Regions from separate parts of the Homo sapiens genome. Here region 1 is linked to region 2. The links come from fine-mapping of genetic effects on gene expression. Tissue or cell type: monocytes after Pam3CSK4. Region 2 holds a variant in brackets; the other region holds the start of a gene. All regions are shown on one strand. Distances are between the middles of the regions.

Region 1 (15,811 bases), 24 kb before region 2:
ATTTTTTGCTTGACATAATATGTAAAGGCTAATATTTCTCTGGTGTTTGGCAAACATGCTGTCCTATCAGAACAAACCAGGCAACTGTTTTCTAGTTTTTAAAACTTTTTCATTACATTCATTATGCTCCAAATGTTCTTTTTGGAATTCCAATAACACACCATGCTTTCTACACTTGACCTCAGCCAAAAGGCCGAGAAGCGATCAAACCATGCTTTCTTTTATGCCTCAATGCCTCTGCACATGTGGGTCTTCTGCTGGAAATATGACCCCCTTGTTCAACATGGAAAATGCCTCTGCTCACGTTCAAACCTTGACTAGGTACTGTCTTCTCTGTGAAATTCTCTCTGGATCAGGATCCTTCTCCCTCGTGTTCACTCTGCATTTGGTACACATTTCTCCTGAAGTAAATTTACCAAATTGTAGTTCTTGGACTGGTTTTCTGCTCCTTCCTCCCTTCCCCCAGATTTGAAGCAACTGAGGCCAGAGTCATCTTTGATAGGCATTCAAAAAATATTTGTAGGAAGCAATAATCATTTTTCATAAACTTTTCAGAAACTTCACACTACTTACTATTAAGGTATGCTTAGAGTCTGGGAAGATTAAATACTTTTTGATTGATTTGCTAGATTACCAGGTACACCACGAAGCTCCAATTTTCTTAGCAGATATAGGCAGAACTCCATTGTAAATGGCATAATCATACAGTCACATTTTGTTCCTCTAAAACATAACATCTACCAACAATAAGACACACACACACACACACACACACAGATTAAAAGAAAAAAAAACCTTATCCCCAACCCCAAATGTTCCCTCTCCTCTCCTTTCTTCTCCCCTCCACTCCCCTCCTCTCTCCTCTTCTCTTCTCTCTCTCCTTTTGCTCCCACTCCAACCACAAGTAACTTTTCACAGTCTAACTCTAGGCATTAGAAGGATGTTTAACACTTAGTAGATGCTCAAAAACTATTTGAAAATAGATGTCCCTCATTCTTTTTGCTGACTAATTTCTGGAAAGGGCAGTCTAATCTTGCAGCTTCCATTAATTCATTCCCTAACTACTCTTCAACCCATAGCAATCTCATTTCTTCTCTGACCACTCTACTGAAATTGTTGTCTCAGAGGTCATCAATGACCTAATTACAAAATTTAATGGAATTATCTCTGTCTTTCTTCTGCCTGACTTCATTATAGGATATAGCATCATTTATCTCTTTGAAATGTAGTATACTTTAAAAAGTATAAGTTTTAAAGCAAAGAGACCCTTGTTTAAATTTGTGTTCATCTTCTACTAGCTGTGTGAACTTGGGCAAGTCACCTTGTAAAATCTCTCATCATCTTGAAATAGGGCTTTTGATATTTATTTCTCAGAGTTGTTGCAAGAGTCAGCTGGGATTTTGTGGGTGAAGCACTCAGCACAGCGCCTGGCTTAGTGTAGCCATGCAATAAACGCCTCCTTTCTCCCCTCGGCTTCCCAGTGATTGCTGTTTCTTGGTTTTCTTCCAGAGGTTCCTCCTTTTCCTTGCCTATCTCCTCTCATTCCACATTTTTCCCCTGCCCTATTTCAGATTTTCTCCATCTCTTACCAGAACTATTTGCCATTCATATGGTCAATATTCCAAAAATATTGGCTGATTGAATGATAGTCTCCTAATTGGTTTTTATGGTTCCCATCTGCTTTTTTCTCCAATTCAAATTTCATGCTGTCACCAGAGTTGATGCTTCTCAAATACAGGTTAGTAATGCAGTCCCCCAACACCAAAAAAAAAAAAAAAAAGAAAAAAGAAAACCACCAAACCCAAACCAATCTGAATAGCAACCCTTGCCTAAAGAATAAAATCTATAATTCAACACTAGGCTAGGTGTGGTGGCTCGCACCTGTAATCCCAGCACTTTGGAAGGCTGAGATAGGAGGATCCCTTTGGACCAGAAGTTCAAGACAAGCCTGGACAACATAGCAAGACCCTGTCTCTAATTAAAAACAAACAACCAACCAAAAACCCTTCTGCACTGCAATCTGACCCCTCATTTGTCCAGCCTCATTGTCTAATCCTGTATGTCTCACCCTATGCTCTGACTTATCTTTTCCTATTTTCAAAACCTCTTTGTGAGTTTTCACTCCTCAATGCTTTTATTCAAACTGCTAACACCCTATTCTTTTTTATTGAAATTCTGACTTGAAGTATTAACTTAAATACCCATTCCTCCATAGGACCTGCTTAGACTACCTCTTTTCCTCTAGTTAAAATTTATCAATCTTTCCAGTCACACCTCTTGTGCACTTGTATTTTGCACTTAATTAATTCTGCTTTGAGGGATCATGTGCTCCAATGCACCATGTGTATCTTATTTATCTAGCTATATCCCAAGGACTTCCTGAACAAGGAGCTTTACACAGTGTTCTAGCGTAACAACTACTTGTAGAATTAAACTGAGTTGAAAATCAACAAGAATAGTCCTGTTTCCTACGAAGGGTATTATAAAGGAAACTTATACATAACAAAGGCTAACATTTATGGAGCACTTACTGTGTGCCAAACTCTGTTCTAAGTGCCCTACACAGCACTAATGCTCACAATCACTCCAGCAAGGAGATGCTATTTATTTACTTAATTTTTCAGATGAGAAACTGAGTTGCAGAGAAGTTAAATAACTTAACCGTAATAAAACTGCTAGCAAGTGATGGAAACAGGTCCAAAACTCAGGTGGCTTGATTTTGGGTCTGCACACTCAATCACTAGTCGGTAGTTAGTATAAGCTGATGATATTTTGCAATGCTTCTGAGGAAAGCAACAGCAGAAATTCCAGCACATGCCACCTGCTTTCCTTGGGATGGGCAGCCAAGGACAGGTGGGGCGACCTCAGAAAGTCTTTTGCAGCCCTGGTTTGCACATAAGTCCTTGCAAGATTTAGAGGACAAGAGATGATGTCCTTCTGTGCCTTGGTATCCTTGGTGTCAAGTACAAGGGCAGCCAAATATTGTGCAAAACATTCTTCTTTGACGCCTAAGCCTTTTGATGAGCGATTAAACCAAGGAGGCTTATCTGGTGACAGTCCTTCTCCTGAGGTGACGTCACTGCTCACCCTGGCCCCTGTGAGGGCTGTTGGAAACAAAGAGCTGACCCTGTGTACTCCCCAAGGTTGAGAGCACTGCCCAGGGCTCTATTCTCGGAAACTGAGTCTCCATCAAAGTCCTGAAGCATTTTCTCCCTTTTTCCTTGGAAGGAGAAGCTGGATGTGGTGGTTGGTCAACTGTGGTTTGATTTAGGTTGTATTTAACCAGCACCAGCCTCCTCCTCCACACTGCTTCTCTAACCACACCAATTCAGTGCAGCATCCTCTGACCCTTCTTAAAGTAGTGAGCCCCTCCCTGGGGAAATGAAGGGAGGACTCGTGAAAGAAACAAAAGGAGATACCATGGGGAGGAGTTTAAGTTATTCCCTCCAATTCTTTCTCCTGTCTTCATCCCCGAACCCTCACTTCCTTGCTTCAGCACCATCCTGGTAATTGATCCCTGTATTTCTAGTTCACCAGTGCAAGATATTAAAGCTATTTGTGGGTCTCAGGGAGGTGTTTAGCATCCGGTGATCAAAATGCCTTTGAGCCAGTAACAGGTCAGCTCAAACAGACTTTGTTTTAGGTGTAAGTGAATTGCTTCTACTTTAAAAAGAAACAATCTGGGTCTTAGAGACCCACAGTAGTAGGGTGGGCTGGGCCTTTAAGAGATCATCTCTTTCCTGCCACTGCCTCTAAGTAGGCTCCAGTTACCTTTAAAAGACCTACAGAGAAAGCCATTCTCTACCCAGTCTTAGTCATTCAGGCCAGTCCTTAACCAGCCTTACACTCGGTAAATGTTTATCATCTATCCCAAATCCCCCATGCTGCACTCTACAGAAATGCATTTCCTCTTGCTCAGCAGCAAAATGAGAGCTGCAGAGTGAAATCTGGCCATCCTTCATTGTGTGTTTGAAGACAGTCAACATTGCTCTCAGCATCATCCACGTTTCTGTCCGTATTTCCAGCTTCCCTGCCAGCCTCAAATTCCACTTCTTCTATGCTCACTGCCTGCTTCTTTCCCTCATAATGGGCCAACCGTTGGGATTGGCCGTTCGAATGTTGTGTAGGGGAGAGACTCTGTGTCCCAGTGTTGAGAGTGGGGATTGTCTGTCTTGCAACAACAGTGTTGTGGGGAGACATTCCTGTGTCTTTGGGAGTTCCCTGCCTTGGCATCCTGGAGCAGGTGCAATAAGGTGTCCGGGGTGCCAGCGCCTTCCAGTTCACATTTACTTGGATGTGTACCCAGGAGAAATCTAGTCTGGAAGCTACTATGTTTCACTAAAGTTTTCCCCTGGAAATTGAATAATAATAGTAGTTTATGAGTCTCCAGAAGTAATAGACAGGTGTTGGGTGTCTTGTGTCTGTAGGAAAAGGGAGCTTGTGCAGCTGAGAATAAACAACAGTTGCTTGGTAATATGACCTCCTTTCATTTAAAGTCAGAGGCCTGGCTGCAGGTGGGGAAAGGGGAGGCTGGGTTGTTCTGGTTACCACCTGTCTGGGGAAGCGGGGAATGGGGGCAAAGGTGAGGTCTGTTTCACAGAGAACTGTGCGGTCGCTGAGAGCCAAATATTGGAGAGAAGAAATATGGGAGTGGGGAGACTTGGGGAGCAAGTGCAATCGCTGAGATTCTGACGCAGGGCATGAAAACTCTTTGGTTCTGATGTTGGCACCAGCTACTTTGAGAAATTGTTTCTCTACACTTTTGGAGGCCTCTAAACTGGCTTCAGAAGGCATGAGTTCCAATTCTGGCCTTGTCATTGATTAGCCATCATCATTTATCTGTGACCTTGGATAAACTACTGAATCTCTCTGTCCCACTTTCATCAATTGTAAAGGCCGCTGGGAAGACACAGTGTGATGTATGAAAGCTCTTTCCAAAAGTGTAAAGGTCACCATACACATAACAAGCACAGGATACTGGAGAGAATTAAAGGAAGGAGAAACTTGATTCTTTTCTCAAGGAGCTTATAGTCTTAACAGTAATGTTGGCTCACAGCTGTAGGGCATTTCATATTTCAAAGCAGTGCCTCATTTATTATCTTACTTGCCAGAGCCATGGGCAACAGAAACAGCTGGAAAGGGCTGAAGGATGTGTTTTGAACAGGGTTTTAACGGTCAAAAGGGTTATGGCTTGAAAAAAAGAAGGGACTGCAGGTGCAAGTGAGTAAGGACAGCGTTCAGGCTAAGAGAGCTCAGGGTATCTGCTTCCCAATCAAGTGAAACATTTTAGATTCCTGCTTGGAGGTTTTCCCTCAGGCCGGGTGAAATGTAAATGATCACTCTTAGCCACTGCTGTGCCCAAGGCTTGAATTAAATCTCACAGGATTTCAGTTCCAGAATCTACTGTGAGTGGGAAAAGTGGCTGAAGTGTGTGGGAAGAGGGTGCTGGTGGCTTTTCTTCCTTGTAAGAGGTATACACTTAAATTCAGAGTGCCCAGAACAAACTTAAAGCTTCCTCCCTTGTTTCTTCTCCCTCTTCCCAAGCTGCCCATAGAATCTTCTGGCCCCTGTCTTGTGGACCATCCTTTTGTGTTTTTGGCCTCCAAGCGAATGGTGGTGTCCTGGCTTCCTTTCTTCCCATAAGCCCCTGAGACCCTCATCTTCTATGTCAAGAGCCCGCCCAAAACTCAGGTTCCTTGAACTGGGAAGTTATCAGATCCCTTGCAAAACACTCGTCCTTGGAGGAAGTACAAGGCAGTGAACAAACTCTGTGGAACTTGGCTTAGCTCCCGATCCTGAAGTTTGGAGTTACAGTGCAATCTCCTCAGCATCCCTGGAGCCGGAAGAGGTGACCTTGGCAGGCCTGACACCTGATGGCAAGGGGTTTCTGCTTTCTGTGCTATGTCCAGGAGTTAAAGTAGAGTGAAACCAAATCACTCCTGAGAGGGCCAGTGGCTGGATTTCAGAAACGGGGGCTGACATTCCAGGGAGTCATTTATGGGAGGGCCTGGCCTTGGCTCTTCAGCCGCAGTATCTCTCTCCCTGAGGAAGAAATATTTCCCTTGGTTTCCCAGCCTCTCAAAAGTTGTGTAATGTCAGGATGCCTTGAGCTTTTCCATACTTGACAAGTGTCATTGCAGAGCTTGGTAGATCCATAGCCAGCTGTCATCCTTGATGTCTTGCTGAACTGCAGGGATGTATTTACTTGCAGTGAATTCTTGTGATCTTTAGGGATGTGAATTTTCCTCAGCTTCGGGACACTTGTGAAATGTGACTTTTGTCCTGGCACGGAAGCTGGGCATTGGCTCCCAGATGGAAACTGGACTCTGAGAGAGGCAGAAAAGAAGGGTGGATCAGATTGTGGACTTCATGGTATGTTCTTGGGTGCTTCTCATGATCTCTTTGAAAGTTACTGACCAGGCTGGGCATGGTGGCTCATGCCTGTAATCTCAGCACTTTGGGAGGCCAAGGTGGGCAGATCACTTGAGGCCAGGAGTTTGAGACCAGCCTGGGCAATATAGCAAGACCTCATATCGACAAAAAGAAATAAAACTTAGCTGCGTGTGGTGGTGCGCACCTGTACTCCCAGCTACTCAGGAGGCTCAGCTGGGAGGACAGCTTGAGCCCAGGAATTCAAGGTTGCGGTGAGCCATGACTGCACCACTGCACTCCAGCCTGGGCAACAGAGTGAGACTTTGTCTCTTAAAAACAAAACAAAACAAAACAGTTACTGACCCAAGAGACAAATGCATTGGGCTGGGGTTGAAGGAGGAGAATGGCTGCTACAGCCCTGCTCTAGGAGCTGGGCTGGGTTAGACTCAGTGCCCACAGAGAGCACCTAAATAGGATGGATCGGTTCTAGGGTTGATGATCTCTTAGGGCCTGGGTCTAGAGAGTGAGTGTGGTTCAGCACATCTTGGGATGCTACCAGGACTGAACCAGACTTCCTAGGTTCCATGACATGGGGACATACTGGATTCTGTGACTCAGTCCATGGCAGGCTGAAGCAGAACTGAATCAGCCCTCAGCAATGTAAGGGGGGGTACCCTCGACTCCCTGGGGCTCTGTTGGATGCATTGCTTTGTGGGTGCTCACCGACTCCTCATTTCATTCTTTGCTAGGGACGCGGCTATGGTACTGGCAGCTGGCTCATGTACAGGGTTCAGGCCCCATTTTCCTTACTGGTCCTGTGTCCTTTGTCTCTCAGACCCTGTTGTCTGTCTTTCCTTGGTATGTCATGTCTGGTATCCTCAGCTCACGCCGCCACGGGAGAACTGTCCTCTTCTCAGCTTGTCATTTTGGAAGCAGCCTCCAGCAACCTTGCTTTCCTCCTCTGACTATACTCCGGCCTGCAGTGCCACTACTCACGCCCCCAAATAATTTAAACTGCCTTTCTTAGGAGACAAGAGCTAGTTGAAAAGTCTCCTCATTTTCCTTCAACCCTGTATCATGGGTGGCCTGAGAGAGTGAGGACTGAATTCATTGACTCCCCTTTCTCTGCACCCCCCACCCCCAAGGAAATAGCCGAGTTCGACTAATGGGAGTTGCCTGGCCAATCGTTGCCCTGAGAAAGTTTGGTTTGTGATCCTATTTCAGTAGGCTGATTGGAGCAGCCTTTACTTGGAGGTCGAGTCCCTCCCCGAGGGAATCCGTGTACAGTTACACTAGCGGTCGCTGCCAGTGCTAGCCCATTCAGGATAGCCCCCCTCACCCCGCCCCCAGCCCCCGCTCCTCCTCCTCCTTTTTTGTTTTTATCCAGTGTCTCGCTTCCTCTCTCTCTCTCTCTCTCTGTCTCTCTCTCCCTTTCCCTCCTACCACTGCCTCTTCCTCCCGCTCTCTACCTCCCTGCAGCGCCAAGCCGGCTCCCCAACCTGGTCTGCTGAACGCAAACCGCTGAGAGTTTGCTGCACCGCCCCCTGGGGCCCCTGGCTGCCGAGTCCCGCTAAGGCAAAGACGCCAGCAAGCGAGGAAGCGCAGCGGAAGAAAAACAAGCGGGCGCGCGAGGGGAGCCCCAGGAGGGCTGCCGAGTGGCTGGCAGGCGGCTCCCGCCCCTCCCGGGTGGCCTCGCCGGCGGCTGACGGCCCGGAGGACGCGCGCTCCGAAAAGTTAGACTCCGGGCGGCGGCGCGCTACGCCGCGTCCCCTCGCGTCCCTTCCTCGCTGCGCTCCGGGAAAGGAACTTGTTCCTTCGGCCCCAGGATTGGGGAGTGTGCCGCGGGGCCGAGGGTGGGGAACAGCCAGAGGGAGACGCGAACCAGGCCGCTGGCGGAGGGCTCAGGGGGAGCGCAGAGGCGACGGCCCCCATGCCGGCGGCCAACATGATGGAGAACCGGCCGCTGCCCGCCCTGCAGGTGCCCGAGCCGCAGGGTGCGCCCGAGGGCAGCCCGGTCTGGTCCAGTTCGTCGACCCCCACGCTTCGCCGCCGGCGCTTCAAGATGCGCCGCATGAAGAACGTACAGGAGCAGAGCCTGGAGGCCGGGCTGGCCCGGGACCTGCCCGCCGTCTTGGCCCCCGGCAAGGAGTTCCTGCAGCTGCCGTCCATCGAGATCACGCCCTCCAGCGACGAGGACACCCCGTGGTCCAACTGCTCCACACCCAGCGCGTCCCCGCGCCGAAAACGCTTCCTCCTCCGCAAGTGGCTGAGGGTGAGGGAGCGGAAGGAGTGCAGTGAAAGCAGGTACGTCCCCGTTCCGCCCGTCTCCTTCCCTTCCCTCCCGTCCTCTCCAGAGCCGTCCAGGGCCCCGGGGCATTCTGGGGGAAACGTCCTGGGGGAGAACAGGAGCCCGTCACCAGAGGCGCTTCTGGAGGGCGCTGCGCCTGGTCCCAGGGATGGTGGCATTCAGCTTCCACGCGTGCCACCCGCTCCCCAACTCAGGGTGAGGGGCTTCATGTTGCACGACACGTTTACGTGGGGCTTTACGCTGCATTCCATCTCCCTTGATCCTCGCAGCGAAATAAATAATAAAAATAATAACAGCTAATAGTTATTGAGCCCTTACCATGTGCGGGCCACTATGTTGCGCACTTCATGTACCTCCAGATTTCATCCCTACGCAAACTCTCTGAGGTAGGTATTACTATGGCTCCCTTTCTACAGAAGGAGATAGTAAAAGGCCAGAGAACAGTTAAGTGGTTTATATTTCAGGACTCCGTTTCAATCTTATTTTATGTTTGGCCACACCGGATTGCCTTAACTGGCTCACTTGTGTGGAAGTGAAATATTGACATTGAGTGAGTCACATTTCCTACCATATCAGAGTCTTTAGACATCGATACCTACAAGACTGTGGTTTGTACCAGCTAGTTTTTTGCCTAGGTCAATGTGGCATCTGGGTAATGGGAGAAGGTTGAGCTTCCCTCACGTAGAGAATTGCTGCAGGGCGCCCTAGAGCAGCTCTACACAGCCCTGGTCAGGACTGCTGCTTCAGGAAGTTGTGTCTGAGCCAAGCCCCTTGCCTGGTGGAGGGCAGGGAGTCCTCACTTGTTCATCGGTACCACGAATCCTACATATTTACTTTGAGACTTTAGGGTCCTGTCTCTTAATGGATTTGTGTTCTTGTGCGGAGCAACTGAGTCATTGATCACTTTCCCTGGAATTCCTTCTCCAAATCTGTTCAATTACATTGATTTCAATTCAGTAAGTACTTACTGAATATTTCTGTGAGCTCAGTCTAGTAACAGCTAATAGTGGTGATGTTGAGGAGGGTGTGGGGGAAGGATAGGTAGAGTAAGGGGTTGTAGAGGCTGAGAAGGAAGATGAGGGGAGGCTTGTATAAGAAATGAACACCTGGGCACAGTGGCTCACACCTGTAATCCCAGCACTTTGGGAGGCCGAAGCGTGTGGATCACTTGAGGTCAGGAGTTCGAGACCACCCTGGCCAACATGGCGAAACTCCATTTCTGTTAAAAGTACAAAAATTAGCTGGGTGTAGTGGCAGGCTCCTGTAATCCCAACTACTTGGGAGGCTGAGGCAAGAGAATCGCTTGAACCTGGGTACAGGGGCTGCAGTGAGCCAAGACTGTGCCACTGCACTCCAGCCTGGGCCACAGAGTGAGACTCTGTCTCAAAAAAAAAAAAAAAAATTGAAGACCTGTGGGAGCCATTGGAAAACATACTGTGCTGTGTGGTACTGATTGTACTAGAAAAGAGAGAGTTCTGGAGAAGTAGAGGAAGACTTCTTGAAGGAAGAGGCTGACACCATGACAAATACAGATGGGTAGTAGAAAACAGCAGGAAAAGAATGAGGTTGGGTGCATAAGACTGGCTGAAGGGAACAATATGAAGAATGGCAGGAGAAACAGGATGAGCCATGTGTCTTTGCGGGGTGGGGACTGAGGAGTAGGATCCGTTATGCAGAAGATGGGCATTTTGGGCCTTCCAGAGTTTATCTTTTCTGTTTGCAACAACTGAGCATGGTTCTCTCAGCAGGTGCAGATACAGAGCTTTGTTCCGTGGATTTTTGTGGACGCTGGGGATAGAAGTTCTTTCTGTTTGGTACTTCATCCTGCTACCCTTTTCACAGAGTAGAGGGAAATGGGGCAAGCTTGGTGGGAGCTAACCTTGAACTAAAGTAGTTTGTCAGGCCAGGGGCGGTGGCTAATGCCTGTAATCCCAGCACTTTGGGAGGCTGAGGCGGGAGGGTCACCTGAGGTGAGGCGGGAGGGTCACCTGAGGTCAGGAGTTCGAGACCAGCTTGGCCAACATGGTGAAACCCTGTCTCTACTAAAAATACAAAAAATTAGCCAGGTGTAGTAGCGGGTGCCTGTAATCCCAGCTACTCGGGAGGCCAAGGCGGGAGAATTGCTTGAACCCGGGAGGTGGAGGTTGCAGTGAGCCAAGATCGCGCCATTGCACTCCAGCCTGGGCAACAAGAGCGAAACTTCATCTTAAATGAATAAATAAATAAAGTAGTTTGTCATGGCTTGTCGGCTTTTCCCTCCAATGTAAAAGAAACTAAAAGAGACCTTCTTTTGATCTTGAGATTCTGCCATATATACTGAGGACAAAATATGGTAAAAAGAGCCGGGTGCAATGGCATGGCCTGTATTCCCAGCTACTTGGGTTGTGGTGTGAGGATCACATGAGCCCAAGAGTTCAAGGCTTTAGTAGGCTATAATGGTGCCTGTGAATAACCACTGCATTTCAGCCATGGTGAGACCCCCACCCCCAACGCTTAAAATGTTACGTGCGTGTGTGTGTGTGTGTGTGTGTGTGTGTGTGTGTCTTTGTGTGTATGAAGAAAAAAATCTTGCATTGCTGGCTAGGATGGGGATGACAGTAGATTTGGTTAGATTTAGGAAGGTATTCCTGGTTTCGAGAGTTGTCTATGTGTGTAGTGGAACCTTCATTTTGTTGGATTTGGGGACATATCCTTAAAATTTGGCAGGATTTTCATCTAGATGTAGTTCAGGCAGTTATTTTAAGTGGTGACTTTTGGATTAGAAGAACCTATGTATCAGCCGGGCGCAGTGGCTCACGCCTGTAATCCTAGCACTTTGGGAGGATGAGGCAGGCAGATTGCCTGAGCTCAGGAGTTAGCCACCAACTTGGGCAACACGGAGAAACACCGTCTCTACTAAAAATACAAAAATTAGCCAGGTGTGGTGGTGGACACCTGTAGTCCCAGCTACTCGGGAGGCTGAGGCAGGAGAATTGCTTGAACCTAGGAGGTGGAGGTTGCAGTGAGCCGAGATCTCGCCACTGCACTCCAGCCTGGGCAACAGAGTGAGACTCCGTTTCCAAAAAAAAAAAAAAAAAAAAAAAACCACCACCAACAAAAAACAAGAACATATGTATCTGAAAAGGCAGACTCTGGATTCAAATTCAAATTCGTGTGACTCACATCTACTCTTAGCTACTGTTATACTGCCTTCTGTTGGAATCTATTTGGATTGTGTGTAAAACAAAGCCCCATCATTTTTAGGCCTCGAAGATGAAAGGCTTCCTTCCAAGAAAAGCAGCAATCAAGTGAATAGGTGCTCGTAGATACCACCAAGTGGCCTGAGAAGGAATTGGTGGCGGGGTGTGGTAGCTCATGCCTGTAATCCCAGCACTTTGGGAGGCTGAGGAGGCAGATCATTTGAGGCCAGGAGTTCGAGACCAGCCTAGCCAACATGGCAAAACCCTGTTGCTACTAAAAATACAAAAATTAGCTGGACATGGTAGTGCGCGCCTGTAATCCCAGCTACTCAGGAGGCTGAGGCATGAGAATTGCTTGAACTTTGTGGGCAAAGGTTTCAGTGAGCTGAGATCACACCACTGCACTCCAGCCTGGGCGACAGAGCAAGACTCCATTTCCAAAAGAAAATAGAATTGGCATTTAGAGGCAATGGAGTGCAGGGAACATTGGACTTAATATCAGAAGACAGCTGTATATTTAAGTTCTATCATCGATTAGCTATGGAGATTAGCTTGAGCATTTCACTTTACCTCCATGAGTTTCACCTTCTTCATTTGTGGAAGAGGATCTCTGTGGGTTAATGGGAAGTCTGAAGAGTAGTGAATGTGAAAATGTTTTGCAAACTTCCTCTTGCTGTGCAAGGGTGAAGGCTTATTTCATTACTCTGTGAGTCTCTCACATGGAATGGATGTTTGCTTAAAAGTATGAGGTTACATACTCACGTGTCCTGGAGCAGCACCTGAGCCTCCTCACACAATTCAGGATTTGGAAATGATGGTTGGAAAATGGCTCTGCTCTGGCCTGGATTAGGGAGGATTAGCATACCAGGCCCAGCATGACGTCTCCACATTCCCCACCCCAAATCTCCTGCTCCAAAAGAGAGAAAAACACCTTTCAGGCTTGCTATGAAATTCAGCGTGATGTGGTAGAAGTTAAGTGGCTGAGAGGGCCATAGCTTGTGGATTTCTTTTAATTTTTGTTTTTTCATTATTTGTTTCATTATTTGTTTGTTTGTTTGTTTTTTTACTTGTCACTGACTTGAAGCTCAAGCTTGCGGATTTTCACTGCACAAAGTTGAAAATATGAAGAGGATTAGGAGACCCTTTTCTTCTCCTTAAACCCTAGGAAGGAAGAAGTGGAACAAATGGTAAAGACAGCATGGCTTACTAACTTTCCAGTGTTCACTGGAATACTCCAAGACCAATCATGTTCATCTTTGTATCGTCACAGCACTGTACCTGACCTCTTACAGTGATCTATAGATCTATAGATGTTTGTTGATGAGTTAATAATGAGTAAATAAATGATTCCTTTTTCTCTACTGTTTAAAGTGAAATTCTTTTATTCATGAGTGTGGGAAAATTTCCAAAAGGAGATGAGTACAGAGCTGAGTTTTTAAAAACAGCTTTATTGAGATATAATTTATATAATATACAATTCACCTATTTAAAGCATAATTCAGTGGTTTTTAATATATTCACAGCTATGTACAACCATCACCACAGTCAGTTTTTAAAAACGTTTGTTGCCCCACAAAGAAACTCATACTTTTTTTTTTTTTTTTTTTTTTTGAGACGGAGTCTCCCTCTCTCACCCAGGCTGGAGTGCAGTGGCTCAATCTCGGCTCACTGCAGCCTCTGCCTCCTGGGTTCAAGTGATTCTCCTGCCTAAGCCTCCTGAGTAGCTGGGATTACAGAAGCTCGCCACCACGCCCAGATAATTTTTGTATTTTTAGTAGAGACAGGGTTTCACCATGTTGGCCAGGTGGGTCTTGAACTCCTGACCTCATGATCTGCCCACCTCAGCCTCCCAAAGTGCTGGGATTACAGGCATGAACCACTGTGCCTGACTGAAACTCATACTTTTTGGCTAGCACCTTCACCCTCTCCATCCCATTTCCCCAGCCCTAGACAACCACTGATCTATAGAGAGCTGAGTTTTGAAGGGTTAACAAATGCCTATAGGTGAAAGCAGTTTGGATGTGTTGGCTTGAAGATAGAGATGGATGACCAAATGTGATCTTGTTGAGGAATGTGGAAAAATGAAGGTGGTGAGGCTGACAGACCGAAGGTGATTTATGCCAAAGAGTTTGAATTTCAATGAATCACTCAGTCATCAAACAGGTATTGAGATCCTATATGCAGAGCGCTTCCTAGGCAAAGTGAAGTCAATTCAATGAGGAGCTGTCGTAGATTCTGGAGCTTGGGAGAGACACTCTCAAAGTGTTGCTCGAGGCAACTACTTTCTGCTGTTCCGTGTAGTGGGGAGGAAGCGTGGGGAGGTGAAGGCCTGGAGTCTTGCTCTTTTCTTTCAGTGGTCTAACTGCAAAGCATCATCTTAACTACCATTGAACATAAGACGGCACAATTTTTTTTTATTATACTTTAAGTTTTAGGGTACATGTGCACAATGTGCAGGTTTGTTACATATGTATACATGTGCCATGTTGGTGTGCTGCACCCATTAACTCGTCATTTAACTTTAGGTGTGTCTCCTAATGCTATCCCTCCCCGCTCACCCTACCCCACAACAGGCCCTGGTGTGTGATGTTCCCCTTCCTGTGTCCATGTGTTCTCATTGTTCAATTCCCACCTATGAGTGAGAACATGCGGTGTTTGGTTTTTTGTCCTTGCGATAGTTTGCTGAGAATGATGGTTTCCAGCTTCATCCGTGTCCCTACAAAGGACATGAACTCATCCTTTTTTATGGCTGCATAGTATTCCATGGTGTATATGTGCCACATTTTCTTAATCCAGTCTATCAAGATGGCACAATTTTTTTGCTGGCCATGTTGCCCTCTGAGCTCAGGGAATAGCGTAGCCTGCAGTTGATGGGGCAGGCTCTTAGCATTAATACTCACATGTCTTTCTAACTTCCTTGCCCAAAACTGGTTGTGGTGATTGTTCAGAACCCAAACTGAGGATTGGAACCCTTCTCTGAATTGCTAGGTTCAGAAAACTCAGAAATTAGATGAAACCACATCTCCCAGGATGTCTTCTTGTCATCACTCTCTGGAGGGGGAAGGGAAAGCTGACGACGGGTGAGTGAGTTGGGTGGTGGCCAACTGCAGGCTCTTTCTAGGGGATGCAGAAGCACCTCTCTGCATCTCTGCCCAGTATACCTTCACTGTTACTATCTTTTGTACCATCTTTCACCTGGCTGTTATGTCCCTTCTTCTACATAACACACCTACCCCCGTCATGACTGCTCACAGTCTAGCAGGCTGGCGGCTAGAGAGTGGAGGGCCTCAGGGTTTCCACTTAGCTCCATGTCTGACCACTGGTAGTGCCGCTCACTAATTGTGCCCAGCATGCTAGGCTAGGTCATCTCTCTGGTGCCAGCCTAGCTGGCGTGTGGTTTGCCTGTAATGAATACACAGCATTGGTATATTTATCTTGATTCTTCATCTCCTTCCTCTGACCTTTGGAGGGAGACTTGTTTCGGGTTTCAGCTCCATTTCCAGGAGAGCAGGGTGATTTTGTGCATCTGAATGCTCTCCCCCTCAGCCCCCGTCACTATTGGTGTAGCTTCTCCGCTCTGTGTGTGCCCTGCTACATATGAGAAGCACAGGAAGTGTGGGAGAGAGAAAACTCATGTCCTTCTTAACACAAAGCAAAGAACAAATGCAAAGGAGACCTATGATTGGTCAGTGGATTAAGTAAGTGATCGGTGCTGGATAGGGTTAACTGGCAAAAACTTCCACCAGATTCATAATTCCTTGAGGGCAGGGACCGGTCTTACTTTGTGCCAAGTTTTCTGCCAAGCAGCCTTAAATACATTATCACATTAAATCCTCACAACAATGCCTCGGTCCCCCCAGGCAGGTTTTCCAGCTGAGGAACCTGAAGTTCAGAGATTAACATTCTCCTGGTCCAACAGAAGCAAGGCTGGGATTTGAAGCGTGTCCTAATT
Region 2 (15,811 bases):
TTGTACTTGGACCTCACTGGTTCTCTAGTAGGGTCTGTGAGCCTCTGCAGACTTCTTTTATTATTATTTTTTTTAGATGGAGTCTCTCTTTGTCGCCCAGACTTGAGTGCAGTGGCATGATCTCGGCTCACTACACCCTCCACCTCCCAGGTTCAAGAGATTCTCCCGCCTCAGCCTCCCGAGTAGCTGGGATTACAGGTGTGTGCCACCACGCCCGGCTAATATTTGTGTTTTTAGTAGAGATGGGGTTTCACCATGTTGGCCAGGCTAATCTCGAACTCCTGACCTCGAGTGATCCACCCGCCTTGCCCTCCCAAACTGCTGGGATTAGAGGCATGAGCCACCACGCCCAGCCCTCTGCAGACTTCTTGGAGGAGTTTTCAGCCATTGTCAGCCATGTATGTTTGAAGGCAGGGCTGTCTTAGAGGTTAACAGAGAGGACAGTCGCCTGCCCATTCAGAAAGTTCTCAGAACACTGAAAATTTCTCTCTCTCTGAAGTGCCTTCTCCATGCTTGGATTGCTTCTTAAAATGCCTTTTGCTTCACTGCCAGAGAGATGCGACTGAAAATGCAGATAACTCAGGAGAGGTAATTCTCACGATTCATCAGACACTTATTGTGCGCTTACTGGGAACCTGGCACTGTTGCTGTGTGCTTGGGATACAAAAATGGATGCAAGCTGGGCATGGCGGTGTGTGCGTGTAGTCCCAGCTACTTGGGAGGCTGAGGTGGGAGGATAACTTGAGCCCAGGAGTTTGAGACCAGCCTGGGTGACAGAGTAAGACCCTGTCTCGGAAGAAAGAAAGAAAAGAAAAGAAAGGAAAGAAAGAAAAAGAAAGGGAGAAAGAGAGAAAGAGAAAGAGAGGCAAGAAAGGCAGGAAAGGCAAGAAAAGATGGTTACAGATGTCCCTTCCATTGGGGAGCTCCCAATTGAGTGTGTGGGAGATCACTATGTAAAAGTTAATTTCAGTGGCATATGGCATTCAGACTAAAGCATGAAAAAAAAATTGATCTGAGGACAGGATCTGCTGGGTGGGAGAGGAGAAGAGGGGCTTAGGGCCTTGATTTTACCAAATCTTCACCTATTTCACTCACACTCAGCTGCCACCTGTCAGCACCTGTTTCTGTCAGACAGACGGGTCTCTCAGAGAATCCAGTCATCCTGGTAGATGGGATTTGTGAAATTATTTCCACCTTCAGAAAAACTGAGAAGTCTAGGGCCATGAAGCTGGTCAGTGACAGAGGTGGATCTAGAATACAGGTCTCCGGCAACCAGAACAAGGGTTCAGTTTACTGTGTTTCTCAGGGAGCCCATATTCATCCAGGAAGGAGCCGTATCTTCAGGCAGTGAGTCATGACGCTCAGGCTGGGCCCCTCCATCTGTGGGGACAGGGTGACAGTTTTTCCTAGGACGACTGCCCCAGCACCAGTCCTAGAGACAGGCTGAGGCAGCATGGGTTGGAGGCTCTGGTTCTGCTAATTTTCTCGCTGTGTGGTCCTGGGCAGATTACTCACTCTCTCTGGGCCTCAGTGAGATTATAAAATGGAGAGTGTACATTTCTGTTTCATCTTGTTAGACAAAATTAAGCACATGTGTCTGAAGAGTTATGCTAATGCATATATTAGTTTACAAAAGCAAAGACATTTGTGCCTATCTATGAGGCCTCCAAGTCTGCTTCTCTGGTTAGTGGAGGCTGGAAGAGTGATTTATTCCTTCTTTGGTTATTTATGAGATGTTGCTTTTCTGATCTATTGATGGGTGCTGAAAAACTGCCTGTAAACCTAGTTTGTTTTTTTTAACCTCCCACAATAGTTATCTTAACCTAGTGTTTATAGTTTAAGGGCTGCTCTCATCTGTATGTCCCTTCAGTGTTGGCCTGCTTAAGATTCCGACTCCAGGTTTCTTCTTTTATATATGTATTTAAAAAAAAAGAGAGAGAGAGAGACAGGGTCTTGCTATGTTGCCTAGGCTGGTCTCAAACTGCTGGACTCAAGCAATCCTCTTGCCTTGGCCTCCCAAAGTATTGGGCTTCCAGGTGTGGTCCACAGAGCCTGGCCCCAGGTTTCTTCTTATTTCTCCTCCTTTTCCTCCTTTTACCCTTTCTCTCGCTCACTCTCTTTCTCACCCTCCCCCTTGTACTATTTTTTTATTATTTTTTTTTGAGGCAGTCTTGCTCTGTTGCCCAGGCTGGAGTGCAGTGGCCCAATCTCGGCTCACTGCAACCTTTGCCTCCTGGGTTCAAGCGATTCTCGTGTGTGCCACCACACCCAGCTAACTTTTGTATTTTTGGTAGAGACGGGGTTTCGCCATATTGGCCGGGCTGGTCTCATACGCTTGGTCTCAAGCAATTCGCCCGCCTTGGCCTCCCAAGTGCTGGGATTACAGGCATGAGCCAGCATGCCCAGCCTCCACTTTCTACTTCTAAATCCATATACTGTCCTGGGGCGATTTCATCCATTCTCTTGGCTTTAATTATTCCTGTCTGAGACCTCATATTTTTCCTGGGCCTTAGGCTTATACCTCCACCTGACTAATGGGCAGTTCCACTGCGATGTTCTTCAAAACTCAGCTTGTCTTTTTGTAATTGAACTCATTATTTTTCCCTTCAAACCAGTTCCCTCCATTCTGTTACTTACATTGGGGCTTGGTACTTTTTGTTTTCACGAGGCTTCTCTCCCTCCAAGCAAATGTTCCTCAAGCCTGCCTTCTCAGCTCCATCACCATAGCCGGCTCTCACGTGTATTACACAAGCATCCTGACTCCATCACAGCCCCTCTCCTGTGCTTCTTCTCTCTGCAGCCAGAAAGGTCTTCATAACCTCACTTCTGTTCCCCTCCTGCTTCATCCACCTGCTGCTCTTGTGTGCTCTGCCTCCAGCCAGTCTGACCTTTTAGTTCCATGAATGGGATGCTCTCTTATTTCCAGGTTTCATCAACGTTGTTCCGTCAGACAGAATTCCTTTTTCATAACACTGACCTACTTTGCCACCGTAAGGCCTTTTCGTTTGTTTAGTTAGCCTTTCCTCTAGGGAATGGTTCTTGACTGAGGTCTTCATTATGTCTGTGTTTCTGAAGCATCCTGCACTGGAGTGTGATAACGTGCTCGCATTGTATCGTTTATTAGATCCTACACACTGAAGGCAGAGTTTATTTTATTCAGTGTTTGTTTTATTCAGTGCCTGCTAAGCTCTTTGCATGGAACATGGTAGGAGCTCAGTAAGCATGTGTTTAGGGAATGAATGAATAATCAAATGATGAAAGCCTCTAAGGAAATTCGATTTTCATGGAATTCTACGATAAATCATTTTGCAAAGCAAGGAGTCCTCTTGAAGCTGAATAATTACCCCTTCATATGCCATTTATGTAAATCTGTACTATTATGTATTGGCTTGTTTGTCTGTCTTTAACCTGTTGGTTTCTGTTCTGGTTTTAACTGGGTTCTGAGTCTTTAGTAAGTGCCCAGAGAGCAGACACTGCTTTTTATTTTTATTTTTTCATATATCACCCAGGGTGGAGATTGCTGGTGAGATATTGACTCACTGCAGCCTTGACATCCTGATCTCTTGAATAGCTGGGTCTGCAGATGCATGCCACCATGCCTGGCTTTTTTTTTTTTTTTTTGAGACAGGGTCTAACTCTGTCACCCAGCACTCAGGTTGGAACACAGTAGCACAATCATGGCTCACTGAAGCCTCAACTTCCCAAGCTCAAGTGATCCTCCTGCCTCAGCCTCCTGAGTAGCTGGGGTTTACAGGCATGTGCCACTATGCTCGGCTAGATTTTTCTACTTTTTGTAGAGACAGGATCCTGCTATGTTGCCCAGGCTGGTCTTGAACTCCTAGGCTCAAGGGATCCTTCTGCCTCAGCCTCCCAATGTGTTGGGATTACAGGCATGAGTCACCACACCTGAACCAGAGACTGCCGTTCTAAAGGTAGTCTCTATTCAGGGGAGCCAAACTTGGCATAGTTAGGTGGAGAGTGATCAGTCTTTCCCAAAATGAGGTTCCAGAGAGCACAAGCACATTGGGAACAATATTTTGTTTGATGGTGGACCCAGGGCCCTGGTATAGTCTGCAAACAGCAGTTAGGTTTTTTTCCCCACCAAAGACCCATAACAGTTTTGAAGAGCATTTATTTTTGGAGCTGTGGTTGCCATGGTAATGCAATACTTTTTCTCGTCTTCTGATTCCAGGTCAGGGCAACAGTTGTTCCTCCTGCAGGGGAAGAGGATTTTGGAATATATGCATCCTTCCACCTTTTTTCCCCAACTAACTAATCCAACAAACATTTATTGAACATACACTACATGCCAGATACCGTTCCTAACACCAGGAATAATAGTGAACAAAATAGAGTCTGCCCTACAGGGGCTTCTCTAGTGGGGTAGAGAGACTGTCAGCAAATTATCAGTGCAATATTGGTCCCTATTTGTTTAAAAGCGAATTATTTGGCCACATCACTGAAAGGGAATTAGTTTGTTTTCTAAAATTTGGAAATCAAGAGTTGTAAAAGAAGTGTCTTCCATACTGCTTTGAAGAGCGATATGGGAGCGGGGAGGAGCTGGTGGCTAAATGTGGGAAGCTGACTCTCTTCCCACTGATAGTGGGACTTCATTGGATTTGTGTGGGCACTTTGGAATGCAGATGCATTTGGTGCTCTGACATCATCTAAGACCTTGGGAGATGACAGGATTAAGCTGGGTCTCTCTGCAGCTGTCAGATGTCAAAGCTGTTGCTCTTCTGGTGTTTGTGGGAGTCTCTTGGCACTAACAGAAGCCAAGAGCCAAAGAGCTGCCAGAAATGGCCCTTTATTATCCAGTGTAATGAAAGCCTGGAAAACAGGCAGGGAATGCCATTTATTAAGCTACCACAGAGTGCGGTACCTTAAACTGGGCTCCAAGAAGGAAGGTAGAGAGGAAAGAGGGGGTACTGATACCTGCTGTTGGGAGCGTCCCATCAGGGTGGCAGAGAATGGCACTCACAAGGACACAAATGAAAATGATGCAGACAATAGCAATTTATCACAATCTCTTAATTTGAGTAGCACTTTACCTTTTCAAAACAATTTACCAGGCCATGGGCTCTCCCACGGAAGGGACAGGGTATAATTATTCTTTGTGATTGCTGTAGCACTGGCACACACCAGGATGTCCAGTGACAAGCGTATGGCATGACAATCTATTACCTCATTTGTTCCTGCATCCTGTGGGGCAGATGTAATGAGTAGACCCACCTGGCACTTAAGGAAATGGGGATTCTGAAATATGCCCACATCCATACAGCTAAGTAATGCTAGAAACCAGACTCAAAAAGAGGTTGTGTCATGTCACTTTTAATTTAGGGCCCTTTCTTTGTTGTACCATACGTGTGTTGTATCTGACATTATACTGAGGCTTATGGATACATGCTGACAGTGTGGGTAATTCAAATCCACAGGAAATGAAACATAAAGACCAAACATTTTAACTAGCAGTTTCGGTGTGCTCCACTGTTTGAAAGCAGCAGCTTCTGTGAACAGCTTTGACTGGATTTTACCTCCCCTGCTCCCCTTCCCATTTGGAGGGACACATTACACAGTCAGGCTGCCAGAGAGAGGAGAGTCCAAATCCCGCCAGCCAGCACTTGTTGCTTGGCTGCTATGTGCTGGCCACTGAGGTGTGGCTGGCTTCTTCTCTTGAAAGATGTAGTCTAGTTTATTTATTATTCATTCATTTGTTTGACAGCAGATTATATATATATATGTATGTATGGTGGTGTTCTCTCGCCCAGGCTGGAGTACAGTGGCATGATCATAGCTCACTGCAGCCTCTAAATCCTGGGCTCAAGTGATCCTTTTGTCTCAACCTCCTGAGTAGCCGGGACCACAGGCACGTGCCACCATGCCCAGTTAATTTTTTAGATTTTTATAGAGACAGGGTCTCACTATGTTTTCCGGGTTAGTCTTGAACTCCCAGCCTCAAGAAATTCTCTTTCCTTGGCCTCCTAAAATGTTGGGATTACAGATGGGAGCCACTGCACCCAGTCCGACAGCAGATTTTTTTGACCATCCGTTAGGCAGTCAGTGCAAGTAATTGTGAACAAATGTAAAAATTTAAAATGTGACAGTCAAGTCCAACAGAGCTTAAAGGAAAAACATATAATAAAAATGTGACAAGTGCATCTAAGAAGAGGACAGCAGTAACTGTTACATTTGGTAATCCTGGCAATTAGCCAGATCTTGTGAAGGACATTTTTTCTGGTAGAAGACCTTCCTTGGCCAGGCATGGTGGCTTATGCCTGTAGTCCCAGCACTTTGGGAGGCCGAGGCAGGTGGATCGCCTGAGGTCAGGAGTTCGAGACCAGCCTGGCCAACATGGTGAAACCCTGTCTCTACTAAAAATACAAAAATTAGCCAGGCGTGGTGATGGGTACCTGTAATTTCAGCTACTCGGGAGTCTGAGGCAGCACAATTGCTTGAACCTGGGAGGTGGAGGTTGCGGTGAGCCAAGATGGTGCCACTGCACTCCAGCCTGGGTGACAGAGTGAGACTCTGTCTCAAAAAAAAAAGACCTTCCTTAATAAGTGGAGTTGGATAGACATTTTGCTTTGGAAAACAGAAGCTATTTACTCTCAATATTAGGTCTACTTCATTCATTTCACAGAATAGGCAAAGATGTCTGGGGCTTTGCTCACTAGGGAATTCTGGCCATGGCCTTTTGCTTCTCTTCTAACCAGGCCTTTTGCTTCTCTTCTCCCTTTTTGCCAGATGTAGAACCACCAGGCTTCCCTTTCATTTCTCCAGGAAAGAAGGGGTAGGGAAGTGAAAGTTCGGTCTTGTGTTTCACAGGCACCACTGAAGTAAAGAATTCAATATTTAGATAATTTTGTGTTACTTTCAGTGCATTTTTCTGACCTTGTTCCTCATAACCATGGAGAATCTAGAGTTCTAGAGCATTTTACCTTAATTAATGACTAGTTTAAGGCCTTTTTGGGTGGCTAGTTTGGAAATGACTCATATTCATGGTCTTGATCAGTTCAACAGTATCCTTAGAAGGTTAGGAAGAAACAATTGTCAGTGTGCAAATAACTCCAAACCTCTAATCCAGCTTAAATTGAAAAATACAGTGGAATATATACATGCAGAAACATAAACGTTTTCTAATAAATATATGTATATATCTAATACACATCAATATATATTAAATATAAGTATATATGTATATGCAAGTATATATATCTTTTTATTTTAAGACAATCTCACTCTGTCATCTAGGCTGGAGTGCAGTGGTGCAATCCTGGCTCACTGCACCCTCTGCCTCCTGGGTTCAAGCAATTCTCATGCCTCAGCCTCCCAAGTAGCAGAAATTACAGGCACGCGCCACCACACACAGCTAATTTTTGTATTTTTAGTAGAGACGGGGTTTCGCCATGTTGGGCAGGCTGGTCTTGAACTCCTGACCTCAAGTAATCCTCCTGCCCCAGCCTCCCAAAGTGCTGGGATTACAGACATGAGCCACCGTGCCTGGCAATATATAGGTATGTATTTTTTAAACCTGGATATTCCTTAGGGCAGGCTAAGTACTTTTTGGTCCTGGAATACTGACTCAAATTTCAGAAAGAAATTTTAATTTGCCTGTTGCATATGATACTTGTTTTAATACCAGCAATTGGACTCAAACCTATGCACCTCAGGGAGATTTCTGGATCTTGCCTGTTTTATTATAGGGGAGGACAAAGTAAACCCAAAGAGGGCTGAGCAATGGAGCATCTGAAGTCCCAGGTCGCTACTGATTGTGAATTCGAGGGTGATCAGGGACAGCTAAGAAACAGAAATGTGTTTCTATTTCTTCCAAGGCTCTGTATCTTTGTAAAATCCCGTTGATAATGGCCCATGCCAACACTGTTCCTCACCTATCCCCACCTCTAGCAAGGCCAGGGTAAATACTTTCCCAGCAGCTGAGTGTGACTTTTATCCTGGTAATAATTTCAATCCTGCTTCCATGGAGTAAAATTCCAGACTGGGACAAGCGTTCTTTCCGCAGGCAGCTTTGCATCATCAGCTTCCTCTTACACACATTGGTCATCATGATAATACCTACCTTGAAGACTGGTTTGCAGATGAAATAAGATAAGGCATCTCTCCAATTTCCTGACATCCTGTAGATACTCACTTCCTGGTTACTTCCTTTGTCCCTCTCCCCTTTAAATTTAAGAGAAGGAGGTGTTTTCATATGGGTGTCATTTGGGGCCAAGCTTATCTGATCTGAAGGACAGGCCCCAGGGCTTGCGTTGTTTTTTCGTCATTGCCAGGCAC[C/T]TTTGCTGAGTCATTTGGGGTTGGCAGACCTGGAAAAGACAGCGGTTTAGAGAGTGGTTAGTGCCGTGATCAGCCAACGCAGGCTCTATTGTCTGTTAGTATTTCCTGGTGCACTTTTGGAACCTGATCTGCCCTTCTCATGGTTAAGGGCAGGGGATGAGTAACTAGCCATGGGGATGTTCTGCATATCTTGCCTTGTGCTGAATTTCCTATAAAATGGCTTCATGAAACTTTGATGTCAGCTTAAGCAGTACTGCCACCAGGCTCTGCGGAGGGCCCTAAGTGAATAGAGGGCAGCAGTGTCTTCCAAATTTGAAATGAGTGACAGTGGGTTATAATTAGGGGAGAAGATGCTCTTGATGCTACTGAGAAGATACAGAGTGAGAACTTTTCTTAGAAAAGTCTGAGGTTGTAAAGAAGAACCAAGGTAAGATTTAAAGATTGCCTCTGAGAGATAGGAGACATATGTGGGAATAGGACTGGTTTTACATGTCCCCTAAAATGCTTATTCCATCTTTAGTGAGGCTGTATTTGTGGGACTAGGTGCATGTAATTCTTATGTTTAAAGAAATGCTTTAACTTGTTATATCTGAAGGATGTTTTATGAGCACTTAGTCTTTTACTAGTTTTGTGATGTTTTATCCCCATCAACATCAATGACAAGTATTGTTTGAATATGTACTTCATGTAAGATGTATAAGAGCCCTACTTAATATTTAGGGAAGTAGGAAATTGAACATTTAAGTCTATTTTTTGCCCAACATATAGAGATGAGAGGGAAAAATATTTGATTAAACTATAATCTTTGTGTCTATTATGACTAGGTAGAGATTCCTTAGGATGAACTAAAATCAAAACAGATTTCACTAGAATTTATTTTTATTTTTTATTTTATAAAAACGAGGGTCTTACTATGTTGTCCTAGCAACATAGTAAGGAGTCTCGAACTCCTGGGCTCAAGTGATCTGCCTTCCTCGGCCTCCCAGTGTGCTAGGATTACAGGCATGAGCCACCGCGCCTGGCCAGATTTTACAAGAATCTGCTTGTGAATTCCCTTCAAAATTAAAATTACACTGGAACCCCTTCTGATGATATGCATTCCACTCAATTGATCATTCATCCTCTACTTGCTATCGAACTGCTGCGCTCACCATGCAATACGGCATAGTTTGCAAAGCCACGGACTCTGGAGTGATCTGCATGGATTCTGTCCAGGCTCTGCCACTTACTCTCTGCCCTTAACATATTTTTTAGCTTTTTTGAGGCTACATTCTTCAGCTTTATTGTCTTTATAACACTTTGTACTTCTGAAATTATCATCTTCTTTTATTTTTCTCTGTTGATGATCTGTCTCTCATTTCTGCATCCCTTCTGCTAAACCATAAGAATTTGAGGTCCTTGAGAGCAGGGACCTTTGCCCCATCTGTTTATTACTGTGTTCCCAGTGGTTAGAAAACAGCCTGGCATATAGAAAACACTCAACCAGGCCGGGTGGGGTGGCTCGCTCCTGTAGTCCCAGCACTTTGGGAGGCCAAGGTGGGCGGATCATTTGAGGTCAGGAGTTCGAGACCAGCCTGACCAACATGGTGAAATCCTGTCTCTACTAAAAATACAAAAAATTAGCTGGGTGTGGTGGCACACACCTGTAATCCCAGCTACTCGGAAGCCTGAGGCACGAGAATCGCTTGAACCAGGGAGGTGGAGGGAGGTTGCAGTGAGCCAAGATTGCACCACTGTACTCCAGCCTGGGCGACAGAGAGAGACTGTCTCAAAAACAAAACAAAACAAAAAAGAACAACACACTCAACAATGGCATATCCATTTTATAGAATGAGCAACTGTTAACAGTTATCCTTCTTGTCAGCAGAAGCACCAGAGGGTTAAGAAAAAAGTTTCAGATGCCTTCTCTGCCCACCAGGAGTTTGACATTCTTGTTCTCTAAGGGCAGCATTGGTGTTGTGGAAAGAGCCCCGAGAGTCAGCAAACTCGAGTTTTATTCTTTGCAGTGCTACTAAATACCTCTGTGACTTTACACTTGTCATTTACCTTCTTTGGGCTGTTGGTTTCCTGTTTGAAAAAGAAAAAATTGGGGCCAAGTGTGGTGGCGCATGCCTATAATCCCAGCACTTTGGGAGGCTGAGGCAGGCAGATCACTTGAGCCCCTGAATTTGAGACCAGCCTGGGCAATGTCATGAGACCTCGTCTCTACAGAAAATACAGAAAATAACCAGGTGTGGCCAGGCGCAATGACTCACGCCTATAATTCCAGCACTTTGGGAGGCTGAGTCAGGCAGATCACTTGAGGTCAGGAGTTTGAGACCAGACTGGTCAAAATGATGAAACTCCGTCTCTACTAAATATACAAAAATTAGCCAGGTGTGGTGGTGCACACCTGTAGTCCCAGCTACTGTGGAGGCTGAGGCAGGAGAATCACTTGAACCTGGGAGGCAGAGGTTGCTGTGAGCTGAGATGGCGCCACTGTACTCCAGCCTGGGCGACAGAGGGAGACTCTGTCTCAAAAAAAAAAAAAAAAAAGAAAAAGAAAAGAAAGAAAGAACTAGGTGTGGTGGCACATGCCTCATGCCTGTGGTCCCAGGTACTCGGGAGGCTGAGATGGGAGGATTGCTTAAGCCCAGGAGGTCAAGGCTGCAGTGAGCTGTGATGGCACCACTGCACTCTAACCTGGGTGACAGAGAGAGACCCTTTCTGAGAAAAAAAGAAAGAAAGAAAGAAAGAATTAGAACAGTTTATCCCTCGAATCCCTTCCTGCTGTGAAGTATCGGCTCATGATTTTATTAATAAAATTAGAGATTGTTATAAAATGATAACCTGGAAAGAGAGTAACAGTTAAAGGACACACTTATCAAATGAGCATACAGGAAGTGAACCAGGAAGCCACATTTCTGTGTCTCTGTTAGCTGCCTCTAAACCACGTTTGTTCTTAGACTGCTATTCTTTCCCCACTGTCCAGCCAGCGTCAGCCTACCCTCGTGGTTTAGTTCACGTGTTTTAGAATAGCCAGCAACTCCCTTCTTTCTCAATCTTTGTGTCTTCCACTTAGCCTTCAAACAGGCTTAATGGAAGATTTCTTAGCTTAGCGTCATGGGACTTTTAAGGCTAGACAGGGCCTATGTGATTGTCTAGCACACTCTGTTCATTTTACAGATAAGCAAACTGAAGTTCAGAACAATGGGGCAACTTGCTCTGTGTTCTACGGAGTCCATGACAGAGTCAGTGCTGGACCCAGCCTTATGAGCCTGGCTCTGGTGCTATTGCTCCACTGTGCTCCGTGCTCTATTTTCCACATATTTTATTTTATGTATTTGTTTTTTGAGATGGGGTCTCACTCTATCGCCTGGGCTGGAGTGCGCTGGTGCAATCACGCTTACTGCAGCCACGACCTCCTGGGCTCAAGTGATCCTCCTACCTCAGCTTCTGAGTAGCTGAGACTACAGGCATGCACCACCGCACCTGGCTAATTTCTCCACTTTTTTGTAGAGACAGGGTCCTGCTATGTTATCCAAGGTGGTCTTGAACTCCTGGGCTCAAGGAATCCTCCTGCCTCGGCCTCCCAAAATGTTGGGATTACAGGCGTAAGCCACCATGCCTGGCTGCCACATATTTTAAATAGATGAGTACCACTTTATGCATGACTCCACGATAAGTGCGTATGTATGCTACACAGAACCTAGTTGGAGTTCTGAGAGAGAGAGAGAGGAGAGGGGAGGGGATTAGGGGAATTGGCTTACATGATTATGGAGGCTGAGAAGTCCCACAACACACCGGAGACCCTGGGATGCTGGTAGCGTGGCTCAGTCCAAGTCTGCAGGCCTCAGAACCAGAGAAGCTGATGTTGTAACTCTCGGTTTGAGGCCAAAGGCCTAGAACTCAGAGAGCCACTGAGGGACAGAGAGAGGAAGAATATAATCCAACTCTGGCAGTTCCATTCACATATTCACCTTTTCTCAGTTTTTGTTTTCCAGGCCCCCAGCAGAATGGATGGTGCCCACTCACAATGAGGGCGGATCTTCCGCACCTAGTCCACTCAGACTCACATGCTGATCTCTTCTGGCAACATCTTCACAGACACGCCCAAAAATAATGCTTTACCGGGTTCCTAGGTAGTCTTTAATCCAGTCAAACTGACACCTAAAATTAACCATCACAATTACCTTCTCACTAAAATCAATCTGAGAAGAAAATGGTCATAAAGAATTTGATGCAAATCCCTTTTTTGATTTATAGGATGAACAGTATCCTAGATAAGGAAACAGTGAAAGGCTGTTTTGTTTTTTTTTTTTTTTCCCCTCCTCTTCATACTCCCCAATGTGAGTAATGGGCAAAAAATTCCAGGAGAATGGGAGCATTCTGAGTGATAAGAACAAGTATCTCTCAACATGTAGAGTGTGTATACGGGTGGGTTATTTTCAAATTTCAAGTCTGCAAATGGGTAGTTCCAGGTATGGCTTGGTGATTGAAGTGGAGGTTCTTTTGGGGCTAGTCCTTTGTGCTCCTGTAATTTCCCCCCAACTCTGAGTCTGAGCTCAGTGAGAACAATCACTTTAATGCTTAATGCACACCGTAATACACAGCGGAGTTAACAGAATATTCAGACAATCACAGACACAATGGCCTTCCTAGCCATGAGTTTGGAAAAGTGTTTCTAGGAGCTTGTTGTAGCAGAGGCTGTGTAGATGACAAAGAACATGCACTGCATTGTAGATGGGTTATAGTTATGGTGACCAGCCCTTGGAGTTAGGGCAGATTGGGGTATTTGATTGCAAAGAAATAAGACACTTCTATATATTTTTTTTTAATTTGCTGATCATGGGAAAATCTTCATGAACCCTTATCTTCTTTTTTTTTTTTTGAGATGGAGTTTTGCTTTTGTCACCCAGGCGAGAGTGCAGTGGCATGATCTGGGCTCACTGCAACCTCCATCTCCTGGGTTCAAGCAATTCTCCTGCCTCAGCCTCCAGAGTAGCTGGGATTACAGGTGTGAGCCACCATACCTGGCTAATTTTCTATTTTTAATAGAGGTGGGGTTTTGCCATGTTGTCTAGGCTGGTCTCCAACTCCCGACTTCAGATGATCCACCCACCTCGGCCTCCCAAATTGTTGAGATTACAGGCATGCACCACTGTGGTCGGCCATATTCATGATTTAAAGGAATTGAAGATAAAAGAATTGAGTTTGATAAAAAAGAGAGAGAAGAATATTATTTTCTTCAAATACTGACTTTTAAGTGAGATAGTGTGCAAAAAATCCATATACTAGGTACTCAAATACCTGTTAGTTGACCCTTCCCCTATGATGTGAACTGGTTATTCACAACTATCTTTATACTTTAAGTCCTGTTCCTAAACACACACTGAGGTTCTGGAGGGCAGGGCTGGGTCTTAGGTAAATTTGTTCTGCTACCTTCTCACTGGACACCTGGCTCACCCAAAGCTTGCCTCTCATCTGTTTTCTGTGTACAGATTGCCATTCAAAAAGTGTTTTCTGAGTGAATGAATTATTTACTTTATGGAGCATCAACATCCTTTTTATGTTCTTGTCCATTTTTATGTCCTTGTCCTCACCCTTGTCCCTTCAAGTTCAGTGGGTCCCAGAACTGAACTTGAAGAGAGTTAATTGGATATAGGCCAGGAGTGTGATTGGACATACGTGTGTGTGTGTTTCATTAAAATTCTCAAACTAAAAATAAATGGTTTGTGGATTAGTCAACTTCTGTTTTCTTCTGCTCGATATCCTGAATTATCCAGTACCTGTTGCCTCCATGCTACTGAAAAGTGACCATGTGTGGTATGACAAGCTTATCAGAAGGCTGTCAAAGTGCTTGGCAGAGAAGACATGGAGTTTAATCCTGAGTGGAAAATGGCATTGTGGAAACAGATGAATTATAGTAGATGAATATAGTAGAAAATATAGTAGATGAATTAAAGTACATGAATTATCTACTTTGTGGACCATCAAAATCCTTTTTATGTTCTTGTCCAAGTTCAGTGGGTTCCGGGACTGAACTTGAAGAGGGTTAATTGGATATAGGCCAGGAGCGTGATTGGGCAGATTTGTGGCAATTACACCTAGACACCGTGACTCCAGCCCCAGTCAATGCGGGGATTTCTCCCCAGGCCCCCCAGGGCACTCTGTGAGTGTTAATGACCAGAGTTTTTGGTTAGGACTGTTTTTATGTCTTCCAATTGGAAAAAACAAGATAATGCTTTTACCATAAGCCAGTTTTTCCCGGGGCTAAGGGCAAATGAAATTGGATGGTGGTTGGGTCAGCAGGATTTGGGGGGCGGACAGGAGTGGGGCAGGGAAGGGGAGGCAGGAAGCTGAAAGGATTCTTTCTGGAAAACAGCACAGCTTGCGGGCTGCTTGTCCTTGAGCTCCGAGGTCACTAGAGCGGTTGGTCTTTGATAGGGTTTCTGCATGAATCCCCTGCTCCTACGTTTCCTTTGTCCCTTTAGGACCCAAGAATCCATCTGCCTTCCCAGGTGCATCAGCTTCTCCTTTCCTTGGGCGCCTCTTTCCTGGGCCGTCCAGGAAGAACACAAGGCTCTCTGTGTCTTTCCCACCTCGTGACCTTTTGGAATTCACATATTTTTGGCTTTTTAAGAGGTTTGGCTTGTGTTGACTAGAGGGAAACAGGTGATAGCAAAATTAATAGCCAGTTGGGAAGCCATAGTCATAAAAAATGTCTTAAAAACATATTGAGTCTTAATTGAGTTTGGTCTTCAATCAGATGTGAATGGACCAGTGCTCCTGTTGCCTGGGCTGCTTCTAAAATGTTCTTGTCAGTTCAGTCGTCTTTCTGGGGAATCAGCTGCCCCGACTGACTCCAGGTTGGCTCCTAAATCAAGCTATGTTGACTTCAGCTGGCAGAAAAGCCAAGCTGGCACTGCTACCAGGACTGTTTCCTAAGAGTCCCCCAGGGCACCAGCATTTCTGTCTGCAGCTGGCCGAGCCCTTGTGATTCCTGTCCTTGTGGCTAAATGAGGTGGTGCTGGCCTCTCTGGTTCCCAAAGACTCCCCCTTGGGCTGCAGGCCAAACGTCACTGGCCTCCTAGAAGTCTCTCCAGCCCTGGCTCTAGCTCTGGGAAGTCCTGGCCTATGCCTTGGCACACTGCTCTGTCTTTTTTGGATTGTCTATGGTTTCTTCCCCAGCTGGTTGTTGAGACAGCTCTACTTTTTGTTGTTGTTGTTGTTTTGTTTTGAGACAGAGTTTCGTTCTTGTTGCCCAGGCTGCAGTGCAATGGCGTGATCTCGGCTCACTGCAACCTCTGCCTCCTGGGTTCAAGTGATTCTTCTGCCTTAGCCTCCCGAGTAGCTGGGATTACAGGTGTCCACCACCACACTCGGCTAATTTTTGTATTTTTAGTAGAGACGGGGGTTTCACCATGTTGGCCAGGCTGGTCTCAAACTCCTGACCTCATGCGATACCCCCGCCTCAGCCTCCCAAAGTGCTGGGATTACAGGCATGAGCCACTGCGCCCGGCCAAGATAGCTCTACTTT

Which allele goes with the higher level. Positions count from the first base shown, and alleles are read on the strand shown. Sizes are in standard deviations (SD) of each study's normalised expression.
For the expression in monocytes after Pam3CSK4 of the gene that starts at base 7,779 in region 1, allele C in region 2 goes with a lower level than allele T (large effect, 1.0 SD a copy in Quach 2016).

What was found.
Region 1: it holds the start of GRAMD1B, and the variant in region 2 is fine-mapped to the expression of GRAMD1B in monocytes after Pam3CSK4 (Quach 2016, PIP 0.91).

The regions. Positions count from the first base shown.
Region 1 is chr11:123,422,491-123,438,301 of GRCh38, forward strand. GRAMD1B (GRAM domain containing 1B) reads left to right here and starts at 7,779. Exons shown (of 20, transcript NM_001387025.1): 1 at 7,779-8,676. The coding sequence starts at 8,303. It overlaps LOC124902776 (a long non-coding RNA gene), which reads right to left and starts at 8,724. Exons shown (of 2, transcript XR_007062928.1): 1 at 8,457-8,724; 2 at 2,586-6,326. RefSeq lists silencers at 7,917-8,246, 8,357-8,406.
Region 2 is chr11:123,446,111-123,461,921 of GRCh38, forward strand. All of the region lies in intron 1 of GRAMD1B (GRAM domain containing 1B), which reads left to right. Among named protein-coding and RNA genes, the nearest start is that of GRAMD1B, 24 kb to the left of the region's middle. The variant C/T (reference allele first, on the strand shown) is at 8,293.